Linked DNA regions of Homo sapiens. The protein of the gene in region 1 purifies or fractionates together with the protein of each later gene. This does not show direct contact. Each region holds a gene or a part of one and is shown in the gene's direction. Other genes may lie near its edges.

Region 1 (6,348 bases):
GTGATTGAAGGGGAGCCAAACCCTGAGCCAGCCTGTCCTCTATGGACTTCTTACCACTCATTGGCGTTTGGTGTGTTTCAATACCCTTTCACCCTGGGAACCAGGTCAACTCTTTAATATGCTAACAATTGCAATGAAAACAAAAAGATTTTTTTGCAGAGAAATAATTAGCTTTGACAATAAATACATAATGTGAACTTGAATTCAAGAATCTGCTAGCGCCCCCCGCCCCTGCTGTGGACATTGGTCAGCCTCCTTTGGTAACACACCCCACGGCAGACCATCCCTGTGCTGTGGTTTTCTATCTATGTAGTTAACACTGTTTCTCATGTGCTCCATCTGGCTGCAGACACACTGAAGGTATGGCAGGGACTTCTCTTTCCTTGGTTAAAAAATATTGCTAATGTTTATTGGGCACTTTCTATGTGCTAGGCCCTGTTCTAAGTACCTCATGAGAAAATCTTATGAGATAGGGGCTATTCATTATCCCCATTTCATAAAGGAAAAATGTGAGGGTCAGGGGTGTTTCATAATTTGCCCAAGGTTGTGCAGCTCGTGGATGGTTATTAACACAGGCAGTGTGGCTGTAAATTTTAGAGCTGTGTTGTTCAATGAGGTAGTCACTAGCGACAAGTGGCTATTTAAATTTAAGTGAATTAAAATTAAATAAAATAAAATATTCAGTTCTGCCATACCAGCCACATTTCAAGTGCTCACTGGCTATGTATGGCTGGGGGATATAGCTTTGGATTCTATCTCTATTGGTCAGCTCTGGCTGGAACCTGTGGGGTCAGTTCCCACACGGTCCTGCTTGCCCACAGCACAAAGGGTACTGAACACAGGGGCACTGTAAGGAGTTGGGGGTAAGGAAAGAGGAGGGGCAGAAAAGCCTTTGCTGCTCACAGGCTGGACTGCCATGGGGAGACTGGGATCTTGCTGCTTCAGATCTGCTTCAGATTGCTTCAGATTTGCTGCTTCGGATTCAGATTGCCCCACTTGAGAATGCGACCATGATAATGTTTTCCTGGTTGCATGAACTCACTGAACCTCACAACAACTCCACAAGATACGTACTACTGTCTCACCACTTCCTAAGAGGAAACGGGAGCTTAGAGAGGTTAAGCCATTTTCCCAAGGTCACACACACTGCCCCTAAGCTGCAAAGCTGGGAAATCAAACCCAGGTTGGCCCAGTGCCCACCTGCAGCTAGAACTGGTGGGTGATGCTGGGTGAATTCAGCATCACTTTTCAGCTGTTCTCATACGCCCCAGTGATTTTCTCATTCCAAGCTTCACTCCTTCTGAAGCTCTCTGACCCATGTAAAAGGAAAGGCCTGATTCTATAACACCAAGAGTTCCATCCAACCTTATAGCCTCAGAGTCTCAAGGAACTAAGGTTTGCATTTCCCAAATGTTGAAGGTTAATATTTATGTTCATTCAATCATTCAACAAACATTCACTAAGTCCCAGGCATGGGGCTAAACCCAAGGATCCAGTAGGGCAGGAGCCCAACAGTGTCTCACAAGCTGCACAGTCCAGAATGCAGGGCAGAGATTCATTTATCAGTACAATAAATGACTACACATACTTCGGAATAACTTGTTCAAATTACATAAGTAATATTTGGTTAATATAGAAAAACATAGATAAACAAAAAGAGAATGGATTGCTTCTGCCCAGAGGTAATTTCAGTTAACATTTTGACATATCTCCTTCCAGTCTTTCATTCTGTGCGCAGATTTTAAAGTAACTCACCTTAGGCAAACATTAGATAAATGTTAAGTAGATGTTGTGCTTTTTTTTTTTTTTTTAATTTTTTTAAGACACTGTTTCTTAACTCCAAGACTTATAATTTCTTTCCTCTGGCTTGGTCTCTACCATCAGGCCTGGGACTGGTTTCTTGAAACAGGATTTTCTGTTAAAGGGATGGGAAAAGAAGGGTGACTGTGGCATTGCAAATGTAGGGGCCAGTTTTTTGAATTCCCAGCCACCAGGCTGACTTGCCACCGCCACTACCCCAGTCCCTCTCCTGGGACAGCCCTTGGACAGGCAGCCCCTCCCCAGCCTGACTCTAGGCCAGGGTTCCAGCAGCTTGAGAGATGATGTTGAGGAGGATTTGAGGATCTGGGGCCAGGTGGTAACAGTGCAGACCTTAGGTAGCCTGGGAATTCCAGAGGCCCCAGCTGGGCACCTGGAGTATCCAGGGGGAGGAAGGGCCAGCTCTTCAGAGAGAGGGTAGGGTGGTGCCATCATAGGCTTCAAAGTCATCAGACCTGGCATCAAATTGAGGTTTGGTTGCCTAGCAGATGTGTGACTTAACTTCTTTCAGCTTCAGTTTCCTCATCCATCAAATGGGAATAATACTCTTGACCTCAAAGGTTTGTGAAGTTAAATGAAATAATTATGTAAATTGCTCATCACGTAAGTACCTAATATGTGGTCCCTATTATTATGGATGGGAACCAAAAAAGGCAGCGCTAAGTCAGGAACTCCAGCCTTGGCAAAGAAAAGGGATTTTCCCTCCATCCTCAGCTAGTGGAGCCCTGAGGGGAGAAGGCGCCCTGAGGGGTAAAAATCCTGGATGAAATATAGAAGACACTGAGACTGGAAACACACGCCCAGATTGGGAAATTCTTCAGAAATCGGCAAATTTCTACTTCTAGGCCTTCTCCTCCTCCTGCTGCTTCCCCACTTGGTTCGCCCGGGTGTGTCAGTCGACTGCTTTCCTACCCAGGGAGCTTCCCTGTCAGGGCCTCTTCCTTCCTGTCCCCGTCTGGCCACTCTGTCTGTCCCCTGCCATTTCCCTTCCCTCCTTTGTCCACTGCCCTTGCCCTGCTCATTGCCCCACCCTCACCCGCCTGGCCCTTCCCGGAGCCTGGCCCTCACTGTGTCCCCTCCTTCCCCCACAGGTCTGGCCCTGGACCGGCTGAGCGCCCCTGACCCGGCCTGGATGGCGAGACTCTCTTTGCCCCTCACCACCAACTACCGTGACAATGTGATCTCCCCGGATGCTGCAGCCACGGAGGAGCCAAGGACCTTCCAGACGTTCGGCAAGGCAGAGGCACCAGAGCTGAGCCCAACAGGCACGAGGCTGGCCAGCACCTTTGTCTCGGAGATGAGCTCACTGCTGGAGATGCTGCTGGAACAGCGCTCCAGCATGCCCGTGGAGGCCGCCTCCGAGGCGCTGCGGCGGCTCTCGGTCTGCGGGAGGACCCTCAGTTTAGACTTGGCCACCAGTGCAGCCTCAGGCATGAAAGTGCAAGGGGACCCAGGTGGAAAGACGGGGACTGAGGGCAAGAGCAGAGGCAGCAGCAGCAGCAGCAGGTGCCTGTGAACATACCTCAGACGCCTCTGGATCCAAGAACCAGGGGCCTGAGGATCTGTGGACAAGAGCTGGTTTCTAAAATCTTGTAACTCACTAGCTAGCGGCGGCCTGAGAACTTTAGGGTGACTGATGCTACCCCCACAGAGGAGGCAAGAGCCCCAGGACTAACAGCTGACTGACCAAAGCAGCCCCTTGTAAGCAGCTCTGAGTCTTTTGGAGGACAGGGACGGTTTGTGGCTGAGATAAGTGTTTCCTGGCAAAACATATGTGGAGCACAAAGGGTCAGTCCTCTGGCAGAACAGATGCCACGGAGTATCACAGGCAGGAAAGGGTGGCCTTCTTGGGTAGCAGGAGTCAGGGGGCTGTACCCTGGGGGTGCCAGGAAATGCTCTCTGACCTATCAATAAAGGAAAAGCAGTGATTCATTCTCCTGTTTGCACCTGTCAAGAGGGAGAAGGGAAGAGTAATAGAGTGGGGTTTATTTGTCATCCAATCCCTGGCAAGACCGTCACACTGGGCCTGGACAGGAGTGGGGCACCTTGGTACACAGTAACAGGTACACAAATAGCAGACATGTGTGCTCTTACCCCTGTTCCCCTATCACTATGTTACCAACTAATCTGCTTCTCAGCTGCAAAATTAGAGCTAAGAAAGCACAACTATTTATAAAGCATTTACATGAGCCAGGCACCAGGCTTTACAATAGGATTTAATTTGATTTTCCAACAATCCTGGGAGGGAGGTATTATTAACCCCATTTCACAGACACGGATATGGGGCTTGGAGAGGTCAAGTGGCTTTCCCAAGATCAAGCAGGGAGTAGAGCCAGAGCCAGGATTTGGACCCAGGCTGGGCCAACACCAAAACCCATGCCTTCAACCTTGACACCAGCCTGCCAACCAAAGACAGGAGAAGGGAAGGCCCTGGAGGTGAGCTGTTGGCAGCAGTGAACTTGCTCGAGCTCCCTCGGGAAACACTGTTGAAAGGAACATTTCCAAAGCCATCCAGGCCCGCACCTCTCTACATTCCCAAGCACAAGGCAAAAGGAACTTGGATCTGAACTGATGCAGACCCGTTCTTTCCCAACAAGTAGCTCTTCAAGTGCGGATGTCATCTTTCCCAACCCCATTTGCGGGTAAACCTTCCTCTGTCATTGCAGGTTCAGGCTTGTGAATCCCAGAGGACGCTGTGTGAACTGGGTCTATGAAATCGGCACTGACAGCAGCCAGCCTTCCAGGGGATGGGGGAGGGAAGAAACAGCAGATATTTTCCCAAGGTTCAGCTTTATAATTTTCTTGGAAATTTCCGAGCAGCCAATCAGCTAGCTTCTAAATAGTGTGGGTCTCTCCTGGACACTGCAGGCAAAAGTTCCTCTATCTGCTCCTCTTTTTGTCCTTTCTTGGAGCTCAGTGCTCATGTTCACTGTTCAAGAAATGGGCCAATCATACTCCCAACTAGGGATAATGTGCATCATACATACTTGGAATACAGTGTGGTATCATTATTCCATTTTACAGATGAAGAAAATGAGGCTCCCCAAAGTTATGAGTTTCAGGGGCAGAGTTTCTCCTCACCTCACTCTAGGCCAGAGTGATCTCCTTACAGAATCTGTGATTTTCAGGCTGGATCACAGAACTGTTGGGTTCTGTGGGCCAGTGAGAGAAACTGGGGGATATCAAGCAGGCAGGCAGGGTCTCCAGCCTGACCAGCCAGGTGCCTGCTACAAAGCAACACTTGATGAATAGCTGTTGAATGGATGTATGAATGAATAAATGTGTCAATAAATGCTTCAGAGGCCCCTTTTATCCATATTGGAGCTCCAGGTAGGACTTCATTAGAAAAAAAGACTCTGTGATGTAAAAGCAAAGTCTGAGAACCACAGTACTGGAGTAGACCATGGTGACCTCCCAGTTACCAGCAGATTTTCAGTGCAGAGCAGATGTTGGGAGGGTGGAGAGAAGAGAGTGGGCAGGGGGAGATGACCTGAGGAAGCTGGAGCTATAGCTGGCAACTGGATCACTAGACACATGGGACCATTGCATCATTCTAGTTCAAAAGCCCTAAATCTGTACTCCTTGGGCACCCTGAATACTAGGTAAAACTTTGTGTCTAGACACTTTTTTAGGCAGAAGATACAAAATTCTCATCAGATTCTCAAAGGAAACCTTGACCTTTAAAAGGTTACACAGCATTGCTTTAAGATACTATCTAAACATCCACAGACATGGGCAGTTGTCATAAAGAGTCTGAACTTTATCTATTTCAACTCTTCATTTTATAGCCAAGAATATAGAAAGAAACGGCAGATGACTTGCCCAAGGCCACCTGGCAGGTTTGTGGGGGAGAGCTTTCCAAATTAAGACATTTAACTGAGTGCTTGCTCAAATCAGGATTTGGATCTGGGATTTAGTATGGTGGTCTTTTTAATACATCAAGGATTCTTAATCTGACGTCTTTGGTTAGACTTCAGGATCTATGAACCTACTGAACTACATGCAAAATTGGGAGGATATGCATTTTTTCTATGGAAAGAAGTAGGTGCTTAGATCAGATTCTCAAAGAGATTTCGGGCCCAATTAAGATTAGAAAGCACTACAATCCTCTAGGTCAGCCCTCAGCCCTGCCTTCCCTGCAGAACCTGGAGAACTCCTGCGTAGAGCTGCTCCTGTTCTGAACTTTGATCAGAATGGGGGTGTATGTACGTGAGGGACAGTGTTCTCTCCTGCACCATGTGTCCCCTCCTGATGAGCTGATACCAGCACCTTTCCCAATAACAGCTCAGAGTGAGACCGTGTCTATGGTAACAGAACTGGGTGTGTTGAACAGGAAGGTTACAGAAATTTCTTGACATCAGCCAAGATGTCAAAGCTGAGACTTTGGACACGCTCAAAACAGTTTCCACCAAGATGGGCTCTGTCCCCTGGGAGACTGAGGGAGCAGGCGAGCCAGCAAGCACTGTTACATGTCGTCCTAATTTGGAAAGCATAGAGGGACATTTTTTAAATCAATAGTCAGCCGTTCTC
Region 2 (8,226 bases), on another chromosome or scaffold:
AGGAGGAAAATTAATAATGTCGCATAATCACATGCAAAGATGTTCAGCCTCATTAGTCCTCAGGAAAATGCATGTTCTGACCAGTGAGATAGCATTTTACACTCAGTAGCTTGGCAAAAATCCAGAAATCCGGTATCAGTTGTTGGTTGGTTTTGTCAGACATGGGAAGGAGGACTGGAGAAAAAGACAGACATGCTAGAGAAAATGTCATTTACTTTGATCAATATTCCATTGTAAGCTCTCTTCAAAATACCTCCAGAGAATACCAGGACCAAAAGGAAAGATTTGGTGCCACTTTAATTTAGAAACAAAAATTCTGTTCATGCCTATGGGAAAAAACATACAGGTATCATCAGTATCAGCTTTTATTGAGAACAGGTTTTTTTCTCCCACGCTTTTTATAATCAGATTCCTGCCTCCCTTCCCACCCTACCCCACAAAATTGACCATTTTCTTGAAGGAAAATTATCTACTTTTATACTTATTTACACATTTTTCCTGTTAAGGTCTGAGGTTTCAACCTTATATGTTCTATATTTGCAGTGGTCAGATATGTGTAGTGTACCTTCAGAAAACTCTCAAAAGATTTCTTTATATATATTCCTTTCTTTCTGAAGGACAGGAAATTTACGTAGGAAATGTTTAGGAGCCCACAGCTATGAAACAACTCTACCATTTATTGACAGTCTTACTTGGTGAAAGTTGAGAAGGGAACTAATAAGGAGGTAGCTATCTTGGTTTTAATCATTACTCCCACATTTACGTGATAGGATGAAGTTGTTTTGCATCGTAGGTACTACAATGTTCTTCATTTTTCATATGTGAATTACTTTTTTAATAGACGGTGGATTCAAGCCAGTTATAATTACGGCACCAGTAAGTGCAAAGGTTGCAGACGGAGACTTTGTTACTCTGTCCTGCAATGCCAGTGGGCTGCCGGTTCCGGTCATTCGTTGGTATGACAGCCATGGATTGATAACCAGCCATCCATCTCAAGTCCTGAGATCGAAATCCCGAAAATCACAGTTATCAAGACCTGAGGGCTTGAACCTGGAGCCTGTGTACTTCGTCCTGTCCCAAGCTGGTGCAAGCTCTCTCCATATTCAGGCTGTGACTCAGGAACATGCGGGGAAATACATCTGCGAAGCTGCAAATGAACATGGTACCACACAGGCAGAAGCATCTCTCATGGTTGGTGAGTTGCCATTATTATTTATTTTTAGTTGAGTAATTTCCTTTTATAATAGAAGATAAAGTGATTTGAAATATGTTATTTTAATGAATCCAGCAATCTCTCTATATTTTTTCCTGATGACAGTGAAATGTAGAACTGTATTTCTTGGTATTTCACTTTATGTGAATCACATGAATTTTGGTCTCTGTTTCTGATGTGTTTGTTAAGATTGTAGGTGCAATACAGAAAGCTCTCATTTGGGAGCAGGCCCAGAATATAACCTGTCTTTGAGATGAATGCTTTTGGTTTTCTAAGCTACCGAAAATGATATTGCAGACATTTTTTATGCCCTTGATAACTACAGTATTGGGTCTAAAGGACTGGCCTTCATTGAGAATGTAGAGTTGTGGTACTATTAAGTAATACCTGTATGTATATATTCCCTGTGTCTTATCCAAAGTTATTTTCTAATGGGATGTATAATATTAATTCTTCATATTTTACTGATTTTTTGTGATGATGACTTAAAAACTATATATGATTTTTGATGTACTGGTATATAGACTATTAATATTCATGGAAATGGACTCAAACTTGACTTAATTCAAATTCAGACCTTCCATCAGTAGGCATTTAGGGCAGCTTTCCCCAACAGCTAGTCAGTTGGGTGTAGATTGTCATCTTATTTGTCTTGTGAGAGGCCCAACATCAAAGGCAGTACTGCCTTTAGTTTTGGGTAACTGAGGTCTCTGACCCTGGCCTCTGCTTTAAGGGGCTTAGCGTGGCTCTCTTCTGCCTGGGGCCATGGTCCCACAGGTTAAAGAGCCCATAGGGTCGAGGAGCAGTGCTTATGCTGAGCTCAGAGCCCACATTCCTCCTTCTAGACAGGTCTGGGGCTCCAGCATTTCCTGCTTCAGTGAGTTCACAGTCTGGTCCCCACAGTTCCTCTCCCCTGGCCCATCCGCCACAGTCTGGACCACACGACCAGTGTGTGGGCACCCTTAGCCAGAGCAGTGGTCAACGGGGGGTCCTTGGCAGAGGAGTGATGGTTGAAATAAAAAAGAGTTCGTATGTGCACATACGATTTCCCTTCACGTGCAAACAAGGACGCCCTTGCTCTGAATGAAGCTGGAGGCGGAGGAGAAGTGGTGGAGACCAGGGACTTCCCCTTATCCTCTTGTGCATGTTAGAGGTGGGAGAGATGTGGAGGCTGAGCACGTGGGCTGTGTCAGAATCCTGGCTCTGCCACTTAGCAGCTTTGTAACCCAAGGGCAAATCACTGCACTTCTCTGTTCTGTTTCCTCATCTGTGTAACAGGTATAGTGAAGGTGCCCCACTCATAGGGTTGATGTGAGAATCCAAGGAGTTAATGCGTAGTAAGTGCTTAGAATGGTGTCTGGCAATAGAAAGCCCTCCATTGATACTAAGTATAAAGTTATGATTGTTACTGTCTAATTATTATTAAATTACAGTGATCTCTTGTGGCAGTGTTAAGGGAAGGAAGAAATAGTTACTGATTTTAGAAACATTAAGAATCCTTAAATGAAGAAAGTAGTTCAGTGTTACATAAATTTGCACCTATAAATGAATGTGCGTGTGTGTTTATATTTCTATTCCTCTAGGCAAAAATAAGAGTGGCTCTGCTCGAAATTGTTAACTGCATGACAGGTGTAGTTGCAGGAGCTCCTTGGGTAGAATTTAGCTGAAGCGATTATGTGAATACAGGGTGTAGAGAGACAGATGTCATAGTTTTATGGCTGATGAAACTAGATATTTTGTCGAACTTCCTCACCTTAAATATGAGAAATCGGAAGCCCTTTGAAGTTATGTGAACTAACTTTAGAAGATCTTTAAGATTCCCCTGTGCTCCAGGATTTTATGTCTCGATAAATACTACTTTTATGTATGGTAACCCCATCAGCTGTATTCTACCAAAGAGGTCCTACGTTGTCTTTTTTTAATTTTCTAGTATAATTATTAAGATCCAACCGAGTTTATTAAAACTCAAAACAATACATGACAACTCACTTCTTTGCATAGGAATCTGAGCCTTATGAAATTCTAGCATCCTGACAAGTCATTTGACTACTGTACTGTAAAGGGGAGAGCAAGCTAGGTTAGAGAGAGAGATAACTCTCTCCCCAGCCTTTTGTTTTTTCCAGAGACTTTGGGTTTTTGAGGTCCTGGATGTACAAATATTTGTAGAGTGTGTGGTACTCTTTAAAACTATAATGAGAGTTGGTGCGGGTTTCCTAAATAGTTTGGGTTGTGAGTTGCTGGCAGCAGTGGTCACAGTGGGAGCATCTTTGACAGATATGGTTGTACTCCCTCCCTGTTTAATTAGTTTCCACTTAGAGTCATTAAATTTATTTACATTGCCGTAGTTGCATCAATCTCTTTTCCGATTCAAAAAACATTCTACCTTAAAAGATGCTAGATGCCTGTTCTACCCATTTCATAGAGTTCTGAAGATAAGTTGAGATAATACATGCAAAAACACCGGGGAAGTACTGGTAAGGTCTTTTCAGTTGTATTGAGTGTATCTCCCAAGTGCCCAGATTATATCATTGAAACAGAAGAAGAAAGTTAATTGAATCCCCCTTTTAATAAAAGTTCTGGAGAGGTCTCATTGCATCTTAAGTCTTACAGAAATGGAATTTTGATACTCAGACAGTGGAGAAGCTGCAGCATTAACGTTTTTCTCATGCTTCTGTATGAGGCATGTGGCATTTAAACTCTTTTACAGCCAGATCCCACTTCCCAGTGGAAAACTGCCCGGAGGATCCACTAAACTTCTAATGATAAAAAGGTCCTTCTCCACTACCTCAAGCCACAGTTAATTATCTCCACTTGCCGAGTCCTTCTGTCTGCATTAGCAGGCACCAGATCACACCCTGAACATCAGTCCGCAGTCTGACTCACTAGATAAACACTGCTGTTCCAGGAGCAATATTTTGAAGTTGTCTCAGTGAACTTAATTAGTTTTCTTCTACATTATTTCCTCACTAGCTTCTTGTTTTCTCTGATGGAGGATGCTTCTGGGACACCCTTTCTCTCTTTTAAACTAACAGAGAACTAACCTTACACTGTCAGTCCTGTTTTCTGTTGGTTCTCTACTGCAGTGCAGCCCTTCTCCCAAAAACACACCCATCTTTTACCAGGAATCTGACTTCATTTTGGACATAAAAGTAGTACGTTGTTTGCTCTGCACTCTTCCTCCACAAAAGGAGTGAAAAATAGAATTTTCTGTTGCCAGTATTAATAGCACTTTAGAGAAACCAAGCCGTCACTCCTTAGGTTTTATTGTGCTGGCAGTATATTTGTTTTCATAAATTGTTCTTTCTTATTATTTTTTTTTTCACAGCAGCACCATGAACATTCTTCTGGCAGCCTTCACTTAGTCTCTCTGAACCTTAATTTCTTCAACTGTAACATGGGAGTATTACCATCTACCTAAGAATGTTTGGAGAATTAAATGAGATTATGTTTATAAGATAGTACAATGCTTGGCACATAATATGTGCTCAGTAATTATCTTTGACTGTATGCAACCTATTTTTTTTTTCAGTGCAAAGAAATTATTTTTATCTTCCTCTGTATATTCTGTATGCTGTTAGTAGTAAGTGTTAAGGCTGCCTGCTTGTTTTATCTTTTTAAATTTTTTTGAGAGGTGTAGTTGCAGGATCCCCTTGGGTAGAAGTTAGCTGGCCTGTTGCCCAGGCTGGAGTGCAGTGGCACGATCATGGCTCACTGCAGCCTCAACCTTCCCAGGCTCAGGTGATCCTCCCACCTCAGCCTCCCAAGTAGCTGGGACTACAGGTATGCGCCACCACGCCTGGGTAATTTTGGTGTTTTTTGTAGAGATGGGGTTTCACCATGTTGCCCAGGCTGGTCTTGAACTGCTGGGCTCAAGTGATTCCCCTGCCTCGGCCTCCCAAAGTTCTGGGATTACAGGTGTCAGCCACCATGCCTGGCCAACTTGAAATCTTCTGAGGTTAAACTGGCAAATGATTATTACTAAAAAGAATACTCTTAGAGAACAAGGAAAAAATAAGAACGTTTAACTGCTACACTATTGCATCATATAATTGGTTTTTCAAGTAATTCATTTGCTCCACCATGAGAAAAGATTGCAATTAGAGGTTAAACATTTCCATGAATTATAAATGGCAGTGTTACCCGTTTTAACTTCTGGGGCTCAAATTGTGCTAACAATACAAGTGAGGGCAGTCACGTCACAAACTGGGTAGAAGACAATGAAATGAGGAGTATCTTCAAGCTGTCTCCTCTCTCTCTCCCTGCAGTTCCTTTTGAAACAAATACAAAAGCAGAGACAGTCACACTTCCTGATGCTGCTCAGAATGATGACAGAAGTAAGAGAGATGGTTCAGAAACTGGGTTACTGAGCTCATTTCCGGTGAAGGTCCATCCCAGTGCAGTGGAATCAGCACCAGAGAAAAACGCCAGCGGCATCTCTGTTCCTGATGCCCCCATCATACTGAGCCCCCCACAGACCCACACACCAGACACGTACAACCTGGTGTGGAGGGCAGGCAAGGATGGTGGGCTGCCCATCAATGCTTACTTTGTGAAGTATCGAAAGGTAATGTCTTGTCGTTTATCATCTTTCTCGGCTCACACCTGAACGTTCTTTGTATAACATATACTGTTGCCTTTTCATTTGTAGAATGGCAGGAAACAGAACAAGAGTCTTCCAGACTGATGAGTTTGTCAGAGAGATCCCAGTCATGCTGGATTTACCAATCCTAGGAAAGCACTGAGAATGAAGTATAATTTCCCCCCAAATTGGAATTCTAGGAACCCAATGATGTCTTTACATGTGTATTCAAATGTTTTAGCCCTTCAACATAAAGCTCTATAACCACTTTTAAAACACAAATTCCTTCCCTCTCTAAGGTAGTAGAATACCATTTATGTAGCAAATAAAGCAGTTTCTTATTAAAAACAACTGTTTGAACAGAGTTTCTGGCATAATTTATGCCAATTGTTTGCATTTCAAGTTTTTTTTTGTTTGTTTGTTTGTTTTTTTTTTTTTTTTTGAGACAGGGTTTTGCTCTGTTACTCAGGCCACAGTGCAGTGGTGTGATCTCGTCTCACTGCAACTGCTGCCTCCCGGGTTCCAGCAGTTCTCGTGCCTTAGCCTCCCAAGTAGCTGGGATTGCAGGCATGCACTACCACACCTGGCTAATTTTTTTGTATTTTTAGTAGAGATGGGGTTTTGCCATATTAGCCAGACTGGTCTTGAACTCCTGACCTCAAGTGATCCACCACCTAATCCTCCCAAAGTGCTGGGATTACAGGCATGAGCCACTGTGCCCAGCTTCAAGTTGCCTTTTTAATTGTATTAAAGTCATACATTGTTAGGTCATTTTTGGTGGTAAACCTTGGGCCTCTCTCAGTTAACTCTTCAAATATCATTTTCCCCATGGGCTTGTGTTGGAGCAGAATGGAAAAGCTCCTCTCTGTTTAATGAGACCAGTACATGAATGAAATGGGAGGGATGCATTCCATATTTAAAATCATTTTCTTTGTCCAAGAAATTTTAGTATACATTGTTGAATGGTAATGTTTTTAATGACTAGGAAAAATAACATGATGATATTTTAATATGATGATATTTTAAGGTTTATGTACTATTTCCAACCTGATGAATGATTCTAGATAAAGAAGTTTTGCTAGTAATCTCATCTACCCTAATACCTCCATGCAATATTGTTTCTTGGTTCCATTAATCAAGAAACAACTGATTAGATCTTTTTATTTCCTCTAACACATATTGAACAGTGTCAAGACATGAAGCAAGAATGCTGGAAATATACATAATTATATAATTCATATACATATAACATAATATAATATTGTCTTAATTTACCATGTATCTATTATGTGTATTATATAATTACCAATGATACCTATTATTTTATACTTATTTTATTCTTCATTAGCCCAGGAAGAAAGAAGGCATTGTTTCCATTACAAGTAAAGGAAACAGAGTCTGGGAGGGCAGTAACTTGCTTGAGGCCACACATTAGTGGTCAGATGCAGAGCCAGGAGTCTTTCTACAGTGAGAATTGCAGCGTTCTTGCAGCAGATCTTCTATTTCTTAATATGAAGAAGTATTGTGTCTTTTTTACTTACCATGCTGTATTACTTCTTAAAACTCTTCTAGAATTAAATGAATCCTAGTTTTGATCAAATGTGACCGAAAGATTTCCTATCCTCCATCTCCTGCTTTTCTTTTCTGGTGTGTTTTCTCTTGGGCAGCTGGATGATGGGGTTGGCATGCTGGGAAGCTGGCACACGGTTCGAGTCCCAGGAAGTGAAAATGAGCTCCATTTAGCTGAGCTGGAGCCATCTAGTCTTTATGAAGTCTTGATGGTAGCAAGAAGCGCAGCAGGTGAAGGCCAACCTGCCATGCTTACCTTCCGAACCAGCAAAGGTGAGTGAGGGCTTCCTTTGGAGGAATGAGCTGGCTGCCCTGATGTCAATTTATTAGTGAGAATTATTAATTTATTTTTTTTGAGATGGAGTCTTGCTCTGTCACGCAGGCTGGAGTGCAGTAGCACAATCTCAGCTCACTGCAACCTCCGCCTCCCCGGTTCAAGCAGTTCTCCGGCCTCAGCCTCCCGAGTAGCTGTGACTACAGGTGCGTGCCACCATGCCCGGCTAATTTTTTGTATTTTTGGTAGAGACGGGGCTTCACAGTGTTAGCCAGGATGGTCTCGATCTCCTGACCTCGTGATCCGCCCACCTCAGCCTCCCAAAGTGCTGGGATTATAGGCGTGAGCCACTGTGCCCAACCAGAATTCTTTTGGATAGTAGAAATTCCTATATGTAAATTCACTAAACGACCCTATTATAGCCTCCCCCTTCCATTTTGGGGTCACATTTACGTGATTGTATTGTCCTATTCTATAGAATATTCCACAGATGTTTTTGAAAGCTTATGTTATACAAGGCAATGAGGATAGATGATATAGGGAAAATGAAGATGGTCAAAATGAGATCCATCCCGACAGAGCTTATACTTT
Region 3 (8,226 bases), on another chromosome or scaffold:
AACATATAGTGTTCCCTTTACAAAGCCTTTATTACTGCTTTGAAACCCAGTTTGGCTCTGTTCTCTATACTTCCATTAAGTCTTCATTTGTACCTCTGTTTCTAGCCTGCCTTTCATCTTTCAACAAATATTTAGTGAACTCCAAATCAGTGTCAGGTTTGCTACTAGGTGCTGATTTTATGGGCTGTGTGTTATAGTCAGCATAGTACCTCTACCTCATTGACTTATAAGGTCATTATTTATCTCTGCATCTCTCATCAGTGCTTGGGACTTAGTAGCTGTACAATAAATACTTGTTCAGTTGAGTTGGAATTTTCTCATACAGATCAGACTATGACAGTAAGATTTTTATAAAGATTGTTTTCCATCAACTGGATGAGAAATGGAATAGCACTTTTTAAAAATATCTGCTGCTATAGTAAATTCTCTCTGAAGAAACACAACTACTATCTCATGGTTTTTCAATTTATCACCTGCTGTCTAAAGATGCTTGATTTTCCAACATTTATGCCTTACTGTCTCTTTATATAATATTTACCTAGTCATCATCTTTATTTTCTTCCAGAAGTGACTTAAGATTTTTTTTTCTTAAGGTGATAGGCCCTAGGGGAATATTTATATCCCCTCAAAATATCAATCACGTTAACTGCAAATAAATGGATAATCAATTAGATTGACCACTCTCTTGTCTAAACTAGTCTCAAGGCTGGCTTGAAAAACTAGGCTAATCATGCTATAGTCCAATTATTTTAGTCATATAAATCAGTTCTGAATGTTCAAATGCAGTTAGAAGAAATTTATTTTCTTTCATCTTTTCTTCTCCAAAATATTTTGACTATCTTACATTTCAGAGTTAGCACTTTGAACAGATTTTCTGCTTCACAGATTTGGATTTGTCCTTAAACCCAAGTGGAGAAGTGACTAGACAGATTGGTGATGCCCTACCCGTGTCATGCACAATATCTGCTAGCAGGAATGCAACTGTGGTATGGATGAAAGTAAGTAATATTTTTGGTACTACCCTGCTGTTTGGTTTGATTTCTTTTTAGGTTTCTTATGCACTTTATATTGTATTCAAGTAGGTATATTCATGGATGTGTTTATATACCAGCTCTCTCTCTCTCTCTGTTTCTGATAAGAGAAATAAAATAACAATAAAATTTTAGAGGTGCTCAACACGGTGACATCCATAATTGGTATTCTGAAACTTAGTTTGGGGTGTTATGTCAATTATGTGTATATACTAATTATACACACACCACACGCATGTGTGCACATACAAACATAGTTATATACCACAGGGCTTAATAATTTACAGTGTGTTTTTGCCCACATTATCCTTACGTGATATTTACAACAACCCTGTGAAATACAAAGATTATTATTTTCCCCACATTCTTCATATAAAGAAATTGAAGGGAAATAAATCAGAAAGCTCATAACTGACAGAGTAGAGACTCAAGGCCAGACCTTACTGAGTATGAATACTATGCTTTGATAAGACACCTTTTGTCTCTCTGCTGCTGAGACCACTCTTAAGTTTCTGAAAACAGGTTCCACTGGATCAAGGGCTCCTAGAAAGCAATCCCTTTTATCCCTGAGCTATAGTAGAATACCTGGAACATAGTAGGAGTTAATTCAGTATTCCCTGAACAAGTGCTTATACTCTTGTAATTGTCTGAAATGTAGGCCATTGGCTATCCTTTTAGAGTAAGGAAGTGTGACTGATAATTGGTGATTTGAGACAAGGTTATCACCAAAGGAAAAGGTTGTGATTGCGATCCCTCCACTTAAACCCTTGGCTAGTATATCCAAACTCCCAGTGCATTTGTTACCAGAGCATGACATGTGACAAGAACCCTTAACCCATGATGGGTTCAGAAAACAACACATACCATTTGAAATAGGAGTTGACAAGAATTACCTTTATAAGAAACTGTGGAGAAATATTTTTCTAGAGTTTCTTTTTGATGGAAATATATTGATGAAATTATTTTGTATTGCTTTACTGCCTGCCTTTTGATCCTTTTTAACACTCGATCCTCTGCTACTTGTTGTCTTACTCTGTGAGCTCAGTTTCTTATTGTACTCTCTTTCAGCCACAGCCTCATCACAACTTGTTCACTAAAATAAAGTGCCACTTCCTATGCTGCAATCTAGCATGATATGTTTGTAGTAATCAGTGATCACAAGGCTAGACAAGTTCTAGGCAACTAGACTAATTCATAATCATTTGAACACTCATTGCATGTTTTACTATAGGACTAGAGAAACTAAGTTTACTGTGGTTTAAACTGTTTGTACAATCAACTGCAATCACTGTTATGAATTAACTGTCATGAACAGCTCATGTATTCAAAATAGTGATGATCAGTATTCCCTGATTATTGGTTAGTTAATGGGGAGTGGGAAAAAATATCCTAATGGACAAAGACCACATAATCTTAGGATTGTGTCTAGTTGCCTGCTTAGGAGCATTTCAATTCCTGACATAATAGGATTATTTTCTGTATATCAGGCTATTTTTTAAAATTAAATGATACATTTCCTTTGTTCATAGAAATTGGAATAGAACGCTTTCCAAATTATAAATTCAGTAAATGAAAGAGCGTGAAATAAAAATCTGACATGTCTGACTCTAAAACAACAAAAGAAAAAGGAAATCTATTTTGAAAGCATCTGAAGTTAAGAAAAAGAAGTTTGCATTTATATTATTCCCAGAAGAATTGTTTTAGGCTTAATTATTATCTAATAAATACACTGAGAATTTTAATTCTGCCACATGAGGTAATTTACTTTTTATTTAATCAGGATAACATCAGGCTTCGATCTAGCCCGTCATTTTCTAGTCTTCATTATCAGGATGCTGGAAACTATGTCTGCGAAACTGCTCTGCAGGAGGTTGAAGGACTAAAGAAAAGAGAGTCATTGACTCTCATTGTAGAAGGTAATAAAATACTTGGGCACTAATTCAAATTGTTCTTTGAGAATTTTTTACCTGGTTTCTTTTATGATCTCAGTTCAACATCTTATTTTAATTGTAATATTTCAGGCAAACCTCAAATAAAAATGACAAAGAAAACTGATCCCAGTGGACTATCTAAAACAATAATCTGCCATGTGGAAGGTTTTCCAAAGCCAGCCATTCAATGGACAATTACTGGCAGTGGAAGCGTCATAAACCAAGCAAGTATTTGTCTTCTTGTTATATGCTGCACTTCGTCCAATGCGTTTTTTTTCCTTCACGAACCTACCCTATAGGTTGGTTTGTTACCACATAAAATTTGCAGTGTGTAGGTTGGTTTGTTACCACATAGAATTTGCAGTACATGCTCAGAGGAAGCTTTTGCTAACTTCTTAATTTTCCTAGAGGAAGAACATGGCTCAAAGAGAAATTTTATCCCAGGGCCATGGAGAAGGGAAGAACCATTGTGTCATGGTCAGTATCTGTTTTTAAAAGAATATAAATTAGGTATTACTTCATGATCATTCATTCCTAAAATGTGAGTGATTAAAACATTAAGATATACACTTTCCTGCAAAATAAGCTCATGCATCTCAGTATAAGTGAACTCTAATACTGTGCTCAACTTATGCACATTAAGGGGTGTTACTTCTTAAAACTATGTCCTCGTGTAGGAATGGTGGAGAAGAACACAGTTACTGCTTATGAATGTGTGGTCTGACATGCCTATGCAGTGCTAGGGCCAGAATAAGGCAAGCTACATATATAGTGCCTAGGATGTGCCCTTCTGAACAAAAGGGTCATAAACCAGACCTTAATATTTGTACCTTTTTATTTTAGTAATAGTAAAGGGTTAAGGATTTGTTAACACTACCTGTTATTTTCTTTTACTATTAAGTCTTTGACCCTCCCCTTAAAGGAAAAATGAGAATCTGGCCTACCACTAGGGATTCAGAACTGTAATCCCAGTAATTTGCCAATCTGCTTGGGTTGCTGACATACTTGCTAATTCCATTGTTCTCTACAACAGTCTTCGTGTCTCCCTCTTCTCAGTATAATCTGTAAAGGCTTCTCAGGAGCACCCAGAGGTACCACTGGATTATTTAAATCTTCTGTACTTCTCAGATTTTGACCCAGTTGAAATTTGAGAAGACATATATAAAGCAAAGAGCTGTAAATTAATTTTAAGTTAAAATCTCCACTCTTCCTCTTTCTAGGGAAGTTGGGCCACTGTCCCAGCTTACGCCATGCAGTTTTGCAGTGCAAAGTGGATTTTGGCTCTTTCAACTATAGGTGATGCATATATAGCTGCATAACTCTAGATATGGAAAGCCCTCAAAAGAGTAGGCACACGTGAAGTGAATGACTCCTGATTTGGTTAAGTGTGATGGGGACACACAGTAAGAAAGCATATAAGAGGAGGCAAAGAAGCTCTGGGCTCCTCAAACCTAGGAAAATGCAGTTTTCTTGATTTGGAATAAAGACTTGAACCATCTAAATTGCTGACAATGTGCAGATCTATTTTTAGCATCAAAAATGGTGGTTTCTTTTCTACTCTATTGTTTTTGCTCTCTAGTTCAATTAAGTGATAACTGCAGCAAAAAAGAACCTTTAGGTACTGGTAATACAGACATAGAAAACAGAAACATAAGCAGACAGTAAGTTTTTGATTAATGAAAAGATATGAAGATTTAAAAGACCATCCTAGAAATGAGAAAATATATTTTGTAGAGTTTAAAGTAACAAAAACAAAGATTCCGTGAGAAAGTCAGATGAAAAATCCTAGTACGAAGTGAAAAAATAGCAGGTAAATTTACTGTGAGGATAAAAATAATAATGCCATCTTTCATTGTCAAGGAGAAAGATTGATTCTGGCCCACTGGGTGATATGTTATTTTTCTTGTTCTGGGATTTGTGCTGATGCATCCATAATCACAATTTTATTTGTTCCCTTCTCAGATACATGGTGAATCTGTTATTTTACAACTAGAAGATGTCTCTGCCCCTCCTCCACCCCAGCAACTAGAAGATAACCAAAACAGGAGAATAGCTCTTGTCCTCAAGGCACTTACCATGTAGTTGAGGAGAAAGCAAACAATATAGAAAGAGAAAAATGTAGGGAATGAGTTCATAAGATGACCGAGAAAAGAGTGCAAGTACATTATTTGCCTCAACCTTGTTGGGTTTAGGAGTCAAATCCTAGGGATGAGATTAAAGTAAATTGTATTTTATATTTGAAGGAATTAAATGCAGTGATTACCCTCATTAACACCTCACAAACATCAGAGGGACAGCAATCACTGAAAAATCATCCATCCTCTGTATTTACAACAGAAAACTTTAGAAAAAAATGGTTTCATGTACCCATGAGCAAATTATACATACATACATACTTTGATATAATGGTTTAAGATAAAGGAATTAATTCCCACAGTGAAGAACAGTGACTAAATTTATAAATAATTAAATTCATATATTTATTGGTGGAAAGTTGGTGTTTAAATAGTCACCAATTAATTATTTTGAAACAAGTATCATCAGGCCAAAATGTTGACTAAACCTGAGATTCTATTTAAAAAGAAGAGTTTAATTAACTTAATTATTAGAATTCACAAAAGAAACATAAACAGAAATTTCATTATGGATTTACTAATCTTTGTAGATATTGGCATACATGGGTCTTGATCTATGATCTTACATAGCTTTTGAACACCAGAATGCTCTATAGAGCACCACGCCTATCCTATTACAGTCATCATTACTCTTTCCTATGCTTTTTAATCCATTTTGATTTCTAAACCCACCTTTTTTCTTCTTTTTCCAGACAGAGGAATCTCCTTATATTAATGGCAGGTATTATAGTAAAATTATCATTTCCCCTGAAGAGAATGTTACATTAACTTGCACAGCAGAAAACCAACTGGAGAGAACAGTAAACTCCTTGAATGTCTCTGCTAGTGAGTATTTTATTTCTGGCATTACAAAAGTAAGAAAATTTGAAGTTATTCTTCATTAGTTTAAAATCTTCAATTCCATCTTCCTGTACTGCATTATGGTAAGTTTTATTTATTTATTTTGCATTTGGTATCATCATCATAAGGTTATTTTTTCTTTTTTCCTGTCCATTCTTGTACTATCCTTGTCTTGACAGTTAAATCATTTCATGTTTTATGGGTCAGAGGCCTTATCCTGTACAGGAATAGTTCCCAAAAGCAACAGAGAATAAAAAATAAGTTTCTCTTATTTAATTCATGTTTTATGTTCAGAGTGGAGATAATTCAAAGATCATCTTAAAACATTTTTGTAACAGTTTTAAATTTGGTAAATTTGTAATTCCCTTTGATCTATTATTTTGCCTTCTAATTCTTTGTGGTATTTATCCTACCCTTATGTTGTACTAGAATGCCACAAGCTTAAAGTCATTTAGTAAACTAGCAAGAGTGATTTTAGAATTCATGAATCTAGTTTACAAAACTGTTCCTTTTGTCATATCATATTTAAACTATAGCCGAAAATCAGATAAGTGAAACTATCTCAGAGAATGTGGAAAAATCTGTCGATGTTGAAATCAGGGTAATACATACATACCAACAACAGCTTCTTCAGAAAACAATTGTCATTTAATGTGAAATTGTCCATAATCTTCAATTCTATAGTTGTTCCTATTGTTTTGTCAACCTTAAATCAGGACTGGCCTAGAATGAGGCTCAGTTCTGGACAGGATGCTAACTGACCTGCCAAACTTTTATTCTTCATTCAGTTGGAAACCTGTATATGACATTAGCAGGCTAGGACTACACTAGCTGGGAATTAGCAAGAGCTAGGAGAAAATAATCATCAAAAAATAATGGTCCCTCACAGATTATGACTGGAATATAAAGGCCTAATGGATTGACAGGATAAAAGAACCAAACAAATTTAACTCTAAGATAGAAGCATTGACTTCTCAGAATGCAATTCAGTGAGTATTGATTTGTCCCACCTAGGAAGAGAACCTACCCTTTCTTCCTGAACACAAGTTTCTCTTTTTATGTTAACCCATTGAATGGTATGCTTCAGTTTTCTAGGCCTTGCAGTGACTTTATCAACATTTAATATAGTCGTTTTCAAATTCAGTGAGCACCTCCTGAGATGCCAATTTAGCATGTATGAGGAGAGGTCCGGGAATCTGCATTTTATCAAATGTCACTGGCAGTTCCGATGCATGCCCATGCACTTTGAAGTTTATTTATAGAGTTTAATATTAGATAATAATTCAACACAGTGGTAATTCTTAAAATGGACAAAGAGCATGGCATTATCAGAGTCATTTGGAGAGCTTTGCAAACATCATGTATGTTGCTTCTTAATCTCGGAGGTATCCCCAGTTTTAACCTCTACTCCTACTACTTTGAGAACATCTCTAGTGGTAAGTCCTTGACACTGGAGGATGACAATGAATTCTCCTATATCGGGCAGGAAAGTTGAGAAAAGTTGATAAACATCACACTGTAGACTTCCTAGGTGCCGACTTGCTTCCCTAAAAAAAGAATGACTATTAAAAGGTGGTGGATAGTGGGAAAATCAATATGGATTTCAGATTAATTCTATAGGTCATCAGTTATGAAATTTTCTATGGTAGATTAATATCTTTGCAGTTGTAGCTCCTCTCCTTAAAACAAGATTAATTTCTTTGTAGGCAAGGTCATACTTTATTAAGTGTGATTTTTTTTTTTTTACTGTTAGCTATAGAATAGACATTTTATCTTTGAGTATTATTACATCATACTATAATGGTAAAGGTGACTTTCATATATCAACAAATTTTGTTTTTAATTTCATATTAACATTTTTCATTTCAGTAAGTATTCCAGAACACGATGAGGCAGACGAGATAAGTGGTAGGTACTATGCTGCCGACTCTTCTTCCTTGACTATCAGCTCAAGATTTATGAAGTGTCATGGTATAAGTAATTTTCTTAGCTGTCCACAATTTTGACTTGAATTAAAATACCAAAGACAAGATAGTAAGAATGCTAAAATTTTACCCTTTAAAAATCACAAGTTTGCATGTTAATTACTGTAGTGAGCTTTAGTCATTTTTAATACAAAGTAATAGCTAGATTGACTTTCTGAAAATCCTTGGCATTGTCTGTAATTGCATGGACTTTTCTTCTTTGTTGCAGATGAAAACAGAGAAAAGGTGAATGACCAGGCAAAACTAATTGTGGGAATCGTTGTTGGTCTCCTCCTTGCTGCCCTTGTTGCTGGTGTCGTCTACT
Region 4 (8,226 bases), on another chromosome or scaffold:
GAAAGGGCATGCAGAAGCTCCTTGCATTTCCGTTCTAACAAGGAGTAAAGAGGGTGGTTCCTTCTCACATCAGGGTCCTTGCCAGTCCCGTGAAAGGGCTCCCTAACCCTGTGGCTGGGTTAAGGCTAAATATAACCTTCTTGGTGGTATCTTTAGAAGACTAGTGGTGTCAAGACTATTCTTTTAGATTTGCCTTTTTTCTAAAGGCAAGGGTATCAAGCCACAGATTCTTAGCTGTGCATTTCATAGAGACCAAAATCAAGAGAACAGCCATCGAAGCCTGTTATGTTATTGGGTGTATAGGTGACCCTGGGTCCTCAGATTTAGAGGTCACAGGCTTCAGGCAGCAAATAGATCATAGCTTTGCCAGAAATATAACGAATGTATTGCATAGTCTGATGGCTTTGCCATATTTTTATATACCAAAATCTGAATACATTTAATACATTTTTACAGACTATAGTCACATACCCAATACACGTTGGCAACATTTTATTTGATACAACTGCTTTCATTGAGCAGAAGCATATGAGTGCCTCCAAAGTGAAGTTAGTGCGTATATATGTGTTTTTTAAGTTCAGTATCAAATAGATGTTTGTTCTCCTTTTGACTGGCAGGCCGTAAACTACAATTACTACTATTCATTGAATGCCTGGCTGCTGCTGTGTCCCTGGTGGCTGTGTTTTGATTGGTCAATGGGCTGCATCCCCCTCATTAAGTCCATCAGCGACTGGAGGGTAATTGCACTTGCAGCACTCTGGTTCTGCCTAATTGGCCTGATATGCCAAGCCCTGTGCTCTGAAGACGGCCACAAGAGAAGGTAAGAGGCAGCACTGAATCTTAAGTTCCACGCTGGTTGAGTCAGAAGCGTTTTGTGAAATCCTGCGCTGATCATTTTTATGATTTTGTGGAAGTCACGTCTAAGGACATTTGTTTCAAATGCATATTTATGGCTAGGATGAGTTCCATCCATTTGGAATCCATGGCTGGCTTCCGCGGGTGGGGAGCGAGGCTGGAAGAGGAGCTACGGATGACTGCTTCATCCCTCCCTTCCCCTTTCCCTAGGAAGTAGCATTTTGCGATCCTTTTCACCATAGGTGGTAAAGAGTAATTTACGGTCAGAACAGAGAGTGTAATTGATGTGTGTTGTGCCCATTATTGCACAATTCTTCCTCAAAACACCCTGGTGAACGCTGCCATGATTCCCTCTGTTGTAGCTGGGTACAAAATAAGCCATTGCCCCAAAGAGACTGTTCTTTCTTGATGGAAAAAAAAGTTATTGAGAAAATAATTGGGGAAAACAAATGTGTTTCATGAAAAAGAAAACTGTTTAAGGTGATTTCCTTTAAGCCTAAGTGTTTATGGAATTAGATTAGTAATGTCTCAAAATAAATTAAGTTTTAAGTTTACCTGTGTGTTGAATTGGTTAGTAATTCTAAGGAGCCACAAACTTTAGTCCCAGTTCCCTTATCCACAGAAAATGGGATTTTTATAGAAATACTGTAGCCACAGGGCCCAAGAAGGAGCCACCAAAATTGACCTAGAGTCTTAATTCATCCTCTTGCATCATAGGGGACATTGGGAATGATCAGGTGGTTCCAGAAGTGTTTCAATGCTCAGCTTCGTATCTCCCTGACTGAAATTTATGGTGGTGATGTAGCAACCAAAAAATGGTATTTGTTTATTTCAAATTTCATAAACTTTAAACTTACTTAAGTGTTATTATTCTCATTACATTTTGGAGGAATTTTTTTTTCCCCGTGAAAACTGATTGGGACAGTTTTTGAATTAATTGAGACCAACAATATCCACTGAACTGTTCAGTACCTAAATGGTTTGAGGCATAGTGAGGAGTAGGTGAATTAATAAGGCCTCAGAAATGCGATCATGCTAATTTTCTCCATACGAATTGTATGGCTTTTGAGTTTTACCCTTAGACTCGCTGTGAAGTGCCAGAGGAATATTTTTGTGCCTTATCCACATGCTACCAAGCTAAACTGTCTCTACTGATGATATCCTTTGGCTGACAACAATATCTTTTCTCAGTTGATGCCATGGAAAAGAAAAGGTCTTTAGCATTAATTTAATGTGGAGTAGGATGTTTTTCTTGAGAAGTCTGGAAATAGCCATTTATTTAAATACTTTTCATCATCCAGGATCCTTACTCTGGGCCTGGGATTTCTCGTTATCCCATTTCTCCCCGCGAGTAACCTGTTCTTCCGAGTGGGCTTCGTGGTCGCAGAGCGTGTCCTCTACCTCCCCAGCGTTGGGTACTGTGTGCTGCTGACTTTTGGATTCGGAGCCCTGAGCAAACATACCAAGAAAAAGGTATCAACTGAGAGTGGTGCCAGCTGATGAACAGAATGACCGGATGCATCTCACTGGTGACAATTACCATGTCTTTCTGTTCTTAAGAAACTCATTGCCGCTGTCGTGCTGGGAATCTTATTCATCAACACGCTGAGATGTGTGCTGCGCAGCGGCGAGTGGCGGAGTGAGGAACAGCTTTTCAGAAGTGCTCTGTCTGTGTGTCCCCTCAATGCTAAGGTACCTAGCTGCCAGATTTCTTTTAAAGGGACCTTACTAGGGTATCTGTTAAGTTCTTGGGCTGAATAAGAACATTTCCTGTCGCGCAGTATTTAGTGTAAGACCATGACCGAATACTTGGGTTTTTCTTTGTTATGTATGGTTTTTTTTAATGATTTTGATAAGATTCATTAAAATTCCACTCAGCCAAAATTGAAAAGAAGTCATTTAAAAGCAGACAGTATCAATGAAACAGATGACTCTAATGAGGTCTTAATCATCTTCCAGATGATCTACTCACCCTTTGAAGTAGCTTCAGGGGAGGTGACATTGCGTATTCAGACTGAGGGTGGGCACGGCACAGATTCTGATGTCTAGAGCACACTTTTCAAAACCCACTCTCTAGTGATAGCATTAACTAGCCTCCTCCAAGCTGGAATTTAAAGGGGTAGTAATGCCTACAAATTGGCAATAATGTAGTTCAGGAAGTTTATGCTATGTGCTGCACAATAGTACACATTTATGTCACCTTTGGGTGCCCTGCTAGTGATTTTTTGGGGGTCAGATTAGGTAAACATAAATGTACATACAGTCATGTGCCATGTAACAGTGTTTCAGTCAGCAAACCGCATATTGCATATATATGACCATGGTCCCATAAAATTATACCTTTTTTTTTTTTTTTTGAGACTGGGTCTTTCTCTTGTCACCCAGGCTGGAGTGCAGTGGTGCGATCTCGGCTCACTGCAGCCTCCACCTCCCGGGTTCAAGGGATTCTCCGGCCTCAGCCTCCTGAGTAGCTAGATTACAGGCGCTTGCTACCACACCCAGCTAATTTTTGTATTTTTAGTAGAGACAGAGTTTCACCATGTTGGCCAAGCTGATCTTGAACTCCTGACCTCAAGTGATCCGTCTGCTTCAGCCTCCCAGATGCTGGGATTACAGGCGTGAGCCACTGCACCCGACCAATATTTTTACTGCCTCTTTTCTATGTTTAGATACACAAATCCTTACCATTGTGTTACCATTGCCTCCAGCATTCAGTACAGTCACACGCTACACAGGTTTCTGGCCTAGGAGCAGCGGGCTAGACCACACATAGCCTAGGTGTATAGTAGGCTTTACCATCTAGGGTTGTGTAAGTACACTCTTATGATGTTCAAACAATGACAAAATCAGCTAACAATGCATTTCTCAGAATGTATCCTTGTTGTCATCAAGTAATGCATGACTGTACTCTAAAATTGGCAGTGTTTTTGTTTGAAGCAATCTGGTAGGAATTTTTTCACTTGTATTCTTGATGAATCCAAGCTCTTCACTTGACTAGCTGTGCCTCTTTGGGCAAAACTACACTTTTTAAAACTTGCAGTGCCCTTTTCTATCAGAAGTGGATAATACCTATCTGCTGGATTTGTTGTTAGGGCTGAATGAACTAAAATGCCCTCACACGGTGGCCAGCAGTAGGTGCTCAGAAAGTGTTAGCTTTTTTTTTTTTTTTTTTTTTTTTTTTTTTCCCTGAGATGGAGTCTTGCTCTGTTGCCCAGGCTGGAGTGCAGTGGCCTGATCTCGGCTCACTGCAACCTCCGCCTCCCAGGTTCAAGCGATTCTCCTGCCTCAGCCTCCCGAGTAGCTAGGACAGGCATGCGCCACTATGCCCGGCTAATTTTTGTATTTTTAGTAGAGACGGGGTTTCACTATGTTAGCCAGGCTGGTCTCGAACTCCTGACCTCGTGATTCGCCCATCCTCAGCCTCCCAAAGTGCTGGGATTACAGGCATGAGCCTCCGCGCCCAGCCAAGTGTTAGCTTTTGTAGGTTCATTTCAGTTTGGGTTTTGCATTATGTTGGGAAGAGAACGCTATTTGCTCAAAATGGGGGCCAAGGGGTTAGGTTAGAAGAATTTTCTTTTAGTATAGATTATTATCATGAAATAATGATCATTCTCTCTTAGGTCCTCAGCATAAGAGCTGCCTAGATTGCTTAAATGTAATCCTCCTGGGTGGAGACGGGGAGCTCTCTGGATCTGTTTCATGTCTATGTTCCATATTTAAGGGAAAGCAGTGATTTCAGACAAAATTATATAAACAAAACTAATGAATAGTTGACATCTTATTATGAAACTTAAGTAAAGAATAATATATAAGAGATGCTGGCTACTTATCTTTTTCTTGGATTAAAACCTGTCATTCATATTTTAGTTAAGAGACTTAGATAAAATAGTGAATTACTTTCAGCTTTTATCTTTAGTTTGATTTGTTGACTTATCAATTTATTTTATGCTACCAAAAATAAATTGCCTGTGATTTAATTTCTTAAACGTTAATAGATCTGCTTTATTTTTCCTTTACTGTTTGAATCGCAGTAATTGCCCCTTCTATGTGTGGAGTTCCTCACCACAAGGAGTTCAGATTTCTTTACAGAGGCTCTATAATTCATCTCTATTATCCTCTCACTCAGCTTTTTAGAGAGACAGCGTATTATTTTCTCTGTTTTCCCAGATGGGAGAAACTGAAGCATAGCAAGATTAAACTGACATTATCTAGGTTAGTAATGTAGGTGGCTACAGAGAGACCTGGTATGGTGATGTGCCCAGGTGCCTCTAGTAAATAAGGGGGATGGAACATAGGTGATGTCTGAACCCAAAAATCTGCCCGGGAAGTGATTTCATATGTTACAGGCTAGAAAACACAGGGCGTGTGCTTGTGGGAATGCACGTAAGTATTAGGAGAAAGACAGAGAGAGAGAGAGAGAGAGAGAGAGAGAGAGAGAGAGAGTGTGTGTGTGTGTGTGTGTGTGTGTGTGTGTGTGTGTGGTTTCCTCTTAATTTAAGGAATACATATAAGACCTCATCTTCAAAATGGACCCAGTGGTAATAGTCCTTTCTCAAGAACATTTTTCAATGATTCTATTCAATATAAGCAAGATTGAGATTTTTGGGAGTTTCTTTTTAAATTGAAGTGTCATAAAATTATCTTTACTTCCTTTTTTTTGAAAAAATGTAAGTTAATTTTAGGAAAGTAATCTCACTTAGGAAGACACTGGTTTCCTTCAGTCCCATTATTTCAGGGGACACATTTTCTATACTGGTTTCATTTGATATCTATTGAATATAAAGTAAGAAATTGGCAACTGGCTCTAATTTAGGGCCAGATGTGTGAGCTAAGACTCATCTTTTTTGAGAGATTGCAATGTCAGTGTAGGTAGTGCTGGTCCCTGGTCTGCATGTCAAGGCACAGTGCCTTGCATATGGTAGACAATCAATATTAGTTATTGAATTCAGCCAAAGGGAAGTTGAATTCACTGAGACTACTGTGGATGAGATACCAAGTATACTTATAATCATTTTTAGTTTTTAAGGCTTAAAAGTATGTCACACCATCAACTCTGTGATACAATTCTATAATAAATTCTTTTAACAATGAAACAGATCATATGCCACAATGAGGTATTTTCTTAAGGAGTAAGTGACCCAGGATGCTATAGGATTTTTATGTTTTCAAAACATTTTAAGTTTAACATTAGATGTTGCCAGAATATTTATAACAAATTAGTTTAGCCCTGGTATTAAAGGTGCCTTTCATAACTGATACTCTCACTTTCTTGCATTTACATGTTACTGGGTTGTAATGTTTGTTTTATCTTCGACTTCTGTGCTAGTTCATTGCCTCAGCATGTGCATCACAAATGCTAGGGGGAAAGTTGAAGAATAAACAAGCTTTTCAATCATTTATATTTCAGGGAAACAAAAGTCAGTCATTCTCTAAACACTATTTTAAGTGACCTGGTTGTGAGATTTTTGTTCTGTTTTGTTTTGTTTTGCAATCTAGGCAGCTATTTTTTATTCAAAGAATTCCCTCCACCTAACCCATAGGATAAAGCTGGCCTCTAGGGAAACCTGTTTACCAATTCTTAATGATGGCCTGCCTTCTAAGGCTGTATCAGATTTTTAACTAGTTCCTGTTCCAGAGTCCCACGTCCTTCTCCTTTGATCTTCTGGTCTCTGGCATTCTGAGTGTCTAACAGAACACTGTCTATACTGCAGAGGGCGGTTGAACTCTTTGTCTGGGCTTTTTATTGAGAAAACAGAATTTGCCTGGAACAAAGGAAAACAGCAGGAGCTTGGGGCGGAAGAGGCGGGCGTCGTGTTGATGTCTGAGTAGAAGCTGTATTTGTATTCTGAGGACTACAAGGACATCACTGACAGATTGGATTCTCCGGCCCTAGGTTGTTTTGTGCATACGAGAGGAGGTGAAGTCACATGTCCAAGCTGGGTTGGGGGAAGCTCAAATTCTAATCATTTAGAGCACTTTTCTCAACACACACTTCAGCGATAGCATTAACTGAGCCTCCTCCAAGCTACAATTTGAGGACAAAAATACCTATGAATGGACAATAATTTGATGCAGAAAGCTTAAATTCTACTGTGTGGTGCATGGTAGTACACACATTTTTATCACCTGCAATTTCTCTGCTTGTGAGTCCTTTCATCAGAGTGGGTAAACATAAATCTATATGCTTTTAAATTGGCAGTTAAGAAAACCTGTTAATATGCACTGCTGCATATTCTTCCAGAAATCTAAGTATGTTTGACGAAGTGCTGTAACTGTAGGTTAAGATGGATAAGGCAGGATGTGGTTGTGTTTTCAGGGGTCATTTGGAAGCAGTGTTCAGACATAATGTTATTTGAATGTGTTTAAACCACTTCTGTATTTCAAGATTTTATTAGTTTTCTCAGGCTGCTATAAACACACACACACACATACACACACACACACACACACACACACACACACACACACATACACACAGATTGGGTGGCTTAGACCACAGTTAATTTTCTCACTGTTGTAAATGCTGGAATTGTCACATCAGGGTGTCAGCAGGGTTGGTTTCTTGTGAGGCCTCTCTCCTTAGCTTGCAGACGGCACCTTCCCCCTGTGTCCTCACGTGGTGTGTCTTCTGTGCACACATATCTCTGGTGTCTGTGTCCATATTTCCTCTTTCTGTAAGGACGCCATTCATACTGGACTGGGGTCATATGGATGGGGGCCCAACCATATGACCTCATTTGACCTTACTTACCTCTTTAAAGACCCTATCTCCAAATACATTTTCATTCTGGGGTGCTGAGGGTTTAATGTAAACTTTGGGGGACAATAACATATAAAAAGAAATGTGATTTTACTTAGGAAAAAGGCCAGTGGTATGAATGAGTGGATCTAGAAAGTGCCTCGAGCAGTCACCCTCATCTTCCCCCAGCACTGTAATCAATGTGTATTATCTAGTGGGAAGAAACACAGGCTTCAGAGCCTGGTTCTAATCCAACTTCACAGCCCTAGATGAGACGCTGAATGGCCCCGAAGCAGTTTATCAACTCAGAAGAGAGGGTCACAGCAGCCACGGCCTCGAGCCACCGTGAGGAAAGACCGCGATCACACAGCACGCAACACCGCTCCCAGCTGGTGGGTGCCACTCAAGGTGTGCCAGCTACACACCATCTTACCATTCACCGTGACTGTTGTTAGCAGCACCCACACTTCATGCTTCTGATTGAGTGAGTTTCTGTAGCATCGTCTCCTCTGGGCTTGCTACTCACTTTGTATTGTAAAGTCCCGAAAGGAGCTTTTGATCATCAACAAATACTTTTCTTTTTCTTTCACTTTTTCTTTTTCTTTTTGTGAGACAGAGTCTTGCTCTGTCGC

The links.
Region 2: the proteins of PCDH12 (region 1) and CDON purify together in Homo sapiens (affinity purification with mass spectrometry; 2 studies listed by BioGRID and IntAct, with this or other methods). This does not show direct contact.
Region 3: the proteins of PCDH12 (region 1) and ALCAM purify together in Homo sapiens (affinity purification with mass spectrometry; 2 studies listed by BioGRID and IntAct, with this or other methods). This does not show direct contact.
Region 4: the proteins of PCDH12 (region 1) and TMTC4 purify together in Homo sapiens (affinity purification with mass spectrometry; 2 studies listed by BioGRID and IntAct, with this or other methods). This does not show direct contact.

What each region holds. Positions count from the first base shown.
Region 1 is NC_000005.10:141,942,367-141,948,714, reverse strand, and holds the end of PCDH12 (protocadherin-12 precursor), read left to right. Parts: intron 1-2,909; coding exon 2,910-3,334; 3' UTR 3,335-5,134; downstream 5,135-6,348. UniProt on the Homo sapiens protein: Cellular adhesion molecule that may play an important role in cell-cell interactions at interendothelial junctions. Acts as a regulator of cell migration, probably via increasing cell-cell adhesion.
Region 2 is NC_000011.10:126,003,310-126,011,535, reverse strand, and holds part of CDON (cell adhesion molecule-related/down-regulated by oncogenes isoform 2 precursor), read left to right. Parts: intron 1-841; coding exon 842-1,195; intron 1,196-5,478; coding exon 5,479-5,777; intron 5,778-7,459; coding exon 7,460-7,634; intron 7,635-8,226. UniProt on the Homo sapiens protein: Component of a cell-surface receptor complex that mediates cell-cell interactions between muscle precursor cells. Promotes differentiation of myogenic cells.
Region 3 is NC_000003.12:105,544,338-105,552,563, forward strand, and holds part of ALCAM (CD166 antigen isoform 1 precursor), read left to right. Parts: intron 1-885; coding exon 886-998; intron 999-2,811; coding exon 2,812-2,947; intron 2,948-3,052; coding exon 3,053-3,186; intron 3,187-5,789; coding exon 5,790-5,922; intron 5,923-7,806; coding exon 7,807-7,845; intron 7,846-8,130; coding exon 8,131-8,226. UniProt on the Homo sapiens protein: Cell adhesion molecule that mediates both heterotypic cell-cell contacts via its interaction with CD6, as well as homotypic cell-cell contacts. Promotes T-cell activation and proliferation via its interactions with CD6.
Region 4 is NC_000013.11:100,629,126-100,637,351, reverse strand, and holds part of TMTC4 (protein O-mannosyl-transferase TMTC4), read left to right. Parts: intron 1-617; coding exon 618-820; intron 821-2,156; coding exon 2,157-2,328; intron 2,329-2,415; coding exon 2,416-2,547; intron 2,548-8,226. UniProt on the Homo sapiens protein: Transfers mannosyl residues to the hydroxyl group of serine or threonine residues.